Regions from separate parts of the Homo sapiens genome. Here region 2 is linked to region 1. A link means that fine-mapping ties the variant in region 1 to the expression of a gene that starts in the linked region. Tissue or cell type: whole blood. Region 1 holds a variant in brackets; the other region holds the start of a gene. All regions are shown on one strand. Distances are from middle to middle. Region 1 overlaps PCOLCE2 (procollagen C-endopeptidase enhancer 2). Region 2 holds the start of PCOLCE2 (procollagen C-endopeptidase enhancer 2).

Region 1 (2,904 bases):
TGTTTATAATAGCATTATTTATATTAATGAAAATTTGGAAACATGCTAAATTTAGAAAAATTTGAGATTTCTTGTATAAATGATGGTGCAAGTGTACATTAGAATAGTATAAAGCCATTACAGATGGTAGTATAGCTGTCTTTCAGTCCTTTGGAGTTCTCTGGATATTTGATAGGTGCTTAACAGATCTGGGTTCCATTTTAAAAATATACTCTTATACATTATTTTATAATGTTATACATGACATTGTCTTCTAGATAACCTACAAATACAGCATCTATCATTCTTATTATGTCCTAATAAAGATCACCTCAGTGGCTTCTCGTGAAACCTGATGAATTAAGCATTTATTTATGTATTTAAGCATTTATTTCAGTATTTCTCTTCCCACCAAAATTACAGTAAGGGAATTGAAAAGTTTAAACTCACAGGAAAAATGGAATTGGAACAGAATTAATAGTACATGAGAGATACCAACAAGATTTTGGAAGATAAGAAAGCAGATGGTCAGTGGTGACTGAATTAACAGAAGAGAGAGAACGAACACTCCCCTGCCAGAGGAGAAGGGAGGTGTCAGTAGGAAACAAGCCGATTTGTGCCACAGAATTCTAGAAAGGCTCTGGAGCTGGAGGCACCTGGTTTCTTGGAAGGCAGGAGGGCAGATGAGGTTAGAAGTTGGAGTTCTGTTTGAAGGCCTCTGTAAGAGCGGTTAACCCTACAGGTTCCCTCCTCCACCTCCAGCAGCAAGGGTGCTGTCTCTCTTCTACCTCCCCACCTTCTCCCTCCAGCCTGGCAGGGAGTATGCTCTGGGAACCACAGGGGTTCTGGGCTTCAGAACTGCAAGCCTAGCAGAAGAGGTCAGGCCCAGGTGTGGCACTGAAAACAGGGTAATTACAGTCTGTGTACTAGAATGGTGAGACCCCGGCCCCACCTCTTTCCCTGCTCCTCCGATGAAAGCTGCAGCAAGGTCTTTACACCTCAGGCGAGGCATGGAACAATCTTAGAGAAAATGAACAGCCCTTGAGAAAGGACCTCTATCCAGATACTGACATTTGGGAGGCCCAAGGCAAAAGCCAGCTCGTCCCCATCACACTGGTGACAAGCCCTGCCACAGAGCTTCCAGTCAGCCTCACCTCAGTTCTGAATGTGAACAGCCAGTTGGGGATTACTAGACATTTGAGGAAAGCCTCTTACATGAAAAGGCAGAGCCCAAACCGAGGGAAACAAAAACTCCAAGGCAACAGAAACAGTGCAGAGCAGAAGAAAATGTCAAAATAATAATCATTATCGTCCTCAGGGAGATGTGAAAAGACACTGTGCACATAAAATCAAAGCAGGATACTAAAAACAAAGGAAACAACAAGAAAAACACTGTTGGAAATTTAAAACTTGATAATAGAGATAAAAAAATTAGTATCAGGGCT[A/GGAAGATA]AACTTGACACTCAGCAGGTAGAACAAAATAAGAGGTAGAGTATTGAAGAGAAAAGATAAGAAAATTAGAGAATCCTGTCAGGGAAGTCCAAGTCTGACTAACGAGAGTTCTAAAAAGAAAGAACAGGGAATTTGGAGAGGAGGGAGTTATCAAAGAAATAACACTCAGCACAAATGAATGAAGAAAGATAAACACCAAGGTGCATCTTTGTTAAATTTACTCACAAAAATCCTACAACTCTCTGCAGAGGAGGACAGTCACATAGAAGGGGAAAGAACAGCATCAGCCTATTGCTGGAAGCTAGAAGGCAGTGGAGCAAAGCCTTTAGCGTTCTGAGAAAACCATTTAAAGCTACAATTCTGTACCTTGCCAAACTGGCAGACAAGTGTTGAGTACAGAATAATAAAGACATTTTCAGAGGTGTACTATCTGAAACTTTTAATCTCTGTACACCTTTGGTAAGAAAACTAAAGGAGGATGATCTCCAGAAAAATGAGGGAATAAAACAAGCAAGGAAAATGACCTAGAAGCCCTGGGAATGGGGGTTCCTGAATTGGTGAAGAAGTGAAGTCCCAGCCCACAGCTGTGCTGCAGGCCTTGAGAGTGACCAGTCCAGACTGGATAGAGGGTGGGCAGGAGGAAGGAGAGCTCCAGAATGGGTGTTTCCAAGAAGAGAATGGAGCTTGATAGAATACTGGTGCCTGGCCGGTATTGAGAGGGGTTTTAGTGATAGGCACATAGAAAACTAAGCTAACTTAAAGAACAAGGCATGGGCCGGGAGTGGTGGCTCACACCTATAATCCTAGCACTTTGGGAGGCCGAGACAGGCGGATCAGTTGAGGTCAGGAGTTTGAGACCAGCCTGACCAACATGGTGAAACCTTGTCTCTAGTAAAAGTACAAAATTAGCTGGGCGTGGTGGTGGGCGCCTGTAATCCCAGCTACTTGGGGGGCTGAGGCAGGAGAATAGCTTGAGCTTGGGAGGCAGAGGTTGCAGTGAGCCGAGATCGCGACATTGCAATCAAACAAAACAACAACAACAACAACAACAACAAAAAGGCAATTATTAGCTTTAGGAAAAATGAAAAAAAATATTAGCCCAGCAGTGAAAAATTTAATATTCATGTGGCTGTAGTCATGAAAATCTTGAATATGGATTTAACCAGAATTTTTGACAGAGGAATAGGGGGAATAACAGGAAGCAAAGAGGTGAAGTTTAAAAGGGCTAAGTCAAGAAGTAGCAGCATAAGCATATAATATATTAAGCAACAAGGAAATAAATTTCACGCAAACTGTCTGAAAGAATTACACTGGTTGCTTCTGAGGAGTGGCTGTCAGGGGCAGGAAGAGGGCAAGGACTTATTTCCCATTGCTGTTAAAAACTATGGACATACTTTTATATTGTAAACTATGCACATACTTTTTAATATAATAATTGGATTTAAAAACAATTTGTTCTCTTTTGTAGCAATTTAATGCT
Region 2 (2,904 bases), 28 kb before region 1:
TTGAAAGTTGTACTTTATGATGTTTTTGCCTTCACTTTTTAAAAAAATGGTAAGATAATCTAAGTCCTGTCCGTATATTCTGGTTCCTAGTATAGGCTTCAGGGTGCACTCACTATGAAAAGTCAGAATATTTCCTGTAGCCAGTTTTACTTACTTCCTTGCCAGGAGTGTTTAGGTTCTTTTTTTTTTTTTTTTCTTTTTTGAGATGGAGTCTCACTCTGTCGCCCGGGGCTGGAGTGCAATGGCGTGATCTCGGCTCACTGCAACCTCCGCCTCCCGGGTTCACGCGATACTTCTGCCTCAGCTTCCCGAGTACCCGGGATTACAGACGCACACCGCAACACCTGGCTAATTTTTTGTATTTTTAGTCGAGGCGGGGTTTCACCATCTTGGCCAGACTGGTTTCGAACTCCTGACCTCGTGATCCGCCCGCCTCGGCCTCCAAAAGTGCTGGGATTACAGGCGTGGGCCATCGCGCCCACCCGTGTTTAGATTCTTAACAGCTCATTATTAGAAATAAAGTCTCGATAAGAACTACTTTAATACTTAATTTTCTTGCTTAGAAAGGTGAAAACAATTTAGAAGGAACAACGTGAGGCATCAAAGTTAAGCTGTATCTCCCATAGCTGGTGATTATTAAAAATCTCTATGAATCTAGTCTGTTCCTGTCATTCTTTTATTAATCCCTGGTTATTGGGAAGCTCTTAACAAAATAAATGTTTAAAATTATATTTCTGTAATTAAGTAAAAGAGAGTATTGATTCCACAAGGCTAGAATTGTTCGTCTAAGAAAAACGAATTCTCCGTAAATTTTAACCCGTTAATACCACAGAAAGATGCTGTTGGAAAGGTCTAAGAACAGAGAGATGCAAGCAGAGAAACACCATTTTCAGAACATGACATGGGATGGTGAGATTTGCTGATTTGGTTCCGTCTTCATTATCTGACATTTAATGACAGTTCACACAGAAATCGCTCGCCTGAAAACCCGTGTTTAAATCCCGGCACAGAGACTGTCTTCCTTGTCATTGTCATACCAGTAAAAAAAAGAAAAGTATCTAGAGAGAGAGAGAGGAGAATAAGCACAGAAGTTAAAATACAATAAAATCCCTTTTCCCTTTCTTTCCTTGGATCTGGGTTTTGAAGGAGACAAAGAAGGACCCCCAGGCTTTCCAGCAGCCAGCAAGCGCTATTACTTTTTATTTAAAAGCAACTGGGAAAAACATTCCCCAAAGCAAAACCAGAAGCCCTCCCTGAGAATCGTCTCTGGGCGTCGGGGCCCGGGCCGCTGGGGTGCCACTCCGCAAGGGGTTCCTCTTCTCCCCGGGGTCCCTGAGGGCTGGACGAGAGAGGACCCGTCGGTCCCGGGGTGCCGGGAGGAGACGTTCGCCCGCCCCACGAGAGGGGGCGGCTCTGGCCTCGGAGCCGCCCCTCCTGCCGCCGGAGAACAAACGGGATATTCAGCAGTGGCCTGTGGCTGCCAGAGCAGCTCCTCAGGGGAAACTAAGCGTCGAGTCAGACGGCACCATAATCGCCTTTAAAAGTGCCTCCGCCCTGCCGGCCGCGTATCCCCCGGCTACCTGGGCCGCCCCGCGGCGGTGCGCGCGTGAGAGGGAGCGCGCGGGCAGCCGAGCGCCGGTGTGAGCCAGCGCTGCTGCCAGTGTGAGCGGCGGTGTGAGCGCGGTGGGTGCGGAGGGGCGTGTGTGCCGGCGCGCGCGCCGTGGGGTGCAAACCCCGAGCGTCTACGCTGCCATGAGGGGCGCGAACGCCTGGGCGCCACTCTGCCTGCTGCTGGCTGCCGCCACCCAGCTCTCGCGGCAGCAGTCCCCAGAGAGGTAACGCGACCCCTGCCCGGGCTCCCTTTCTCTCCTTTCCCTTCCTCCACCCCTGCAGCCTCGCCTGCTGCTTTACTCAACCCGCTTCGGCGCGCCTGGGTGACCCAGCGCTCGACCCTGCGCTCCCGCGCGGTGCAGGCGTCCGCCACCCTCGGGTAGGCTAAGCCCGGGACTTCGGGACCCATCCTTGCTCGCGGGGCTCCCTCCTGGGTCCCCAGCCCGGCCTGCCGGATGGCCCTGCAGCTGGCTTGGCCACCACGTGGCGGGGCTTAATCTGACTTGTGTCTCCCCTCTCCTCGTGTCTATGGGGCCAGAGGGAAGCACTGGGGCCCAAATATGTGGATTTTGGTTTACCGCTGTTTTTTTTCCTTCCCCGAGAGGCTTTGCCCAGAGACGTAAACTAGGGAACAACCCTAGCGGCGCGGCGCCTAGGGAGCCGCTCCGGAAAGTTAACTCTTCGCCAACCTCTGGAAGGCCCCAGGAGCTGGGCTGTGGGACCTGCCCGGTGGCCAACTTTGGCATCACCTCTTCAGCCTCCATCAACATCAGCCTCCCTTTCGATGGGAAGCTCTGCCAATGGCGAGTGATTTTCAGAAAGGGGGAGGAGAACTGGGCATCTCTCCAAATATGGGAACGACAAACTTTTTTTATATTAACCAATTGCTTGCCTGTCTTTCTTTAAAACCATGCTTCTCATTCAGCCTGGCTCTTACCTTCTCTCCCACTCCCCCAGTTAAATTGATGTATTTACCATTTTCCTACAAGACTTTGCCACAATGCCGAGGACTTGATTATACATATATATAATCTTGTGTTATTATGATGGAGACAGATGGCGCTGGACTGAATGCTTTGTCAGGCTATAATTTAAATATTCTAGGAGCTAGCAAATTTTCAGATCCCTTATATGGTGCAAGCATTGATTAATCAACATTAACTTTTATTTATATTAATAGGCTACACCTTTCTGAAGGTAACATCAGATTGTTAGACCATGTTTCAAATTACATTATCTTTTCTTCTTTTATGTTCCCAGACCTGTTTTCACATGTGGTGGCATTCTTACTGG

Evidence for each region. PIP is the estimated chance that this variant, and not a neighbour inherited with it, causes the effect.
Region 2: PCOLCE2 starts here. The variant in region 1 is fine-mapped to the expression of PCOLCE2 in whole blood (TOPMed, PIP above 0.99).

The regions. Positions count from the first base shown.
Region 1 is chr3:142,860,001-142,862,904 of GRCh38, reverse strand. All of the region lies in intron 2 of PCOLCE2 (procollagen C-endopeptidase enhancer 2), which reads left to right. Among named protein-coding and RNA genes, the nearest start is that of PCOLCE2, 28 kb to the left of the region's middle. The variant A/GGAAGATA (reference allele first, on the strand shown) is at 1,425.
Region 2 is chr3:142,887,745-142,890,648 of GRCh38, reverse strand. It overlaps PCOLCE2 (procollagen C-endopeptidase enhancer 2), which reads left to right and starts at 1,566. Exons shown (of 9, transcript NM_013363.4): 1 at 1,566-1,835; 2 at 2,872-2,904. The coding sequence starts at 1,753. LOC124909443 (a long non-coding RNA gene) reads right to left here and starts at 2,385. Exons shown (of 2, transcript XR_007096122.1): 1 at 2,190-2,385; 2 at 1-1,058. RefSeq lists a silencer at 1,574-1,623.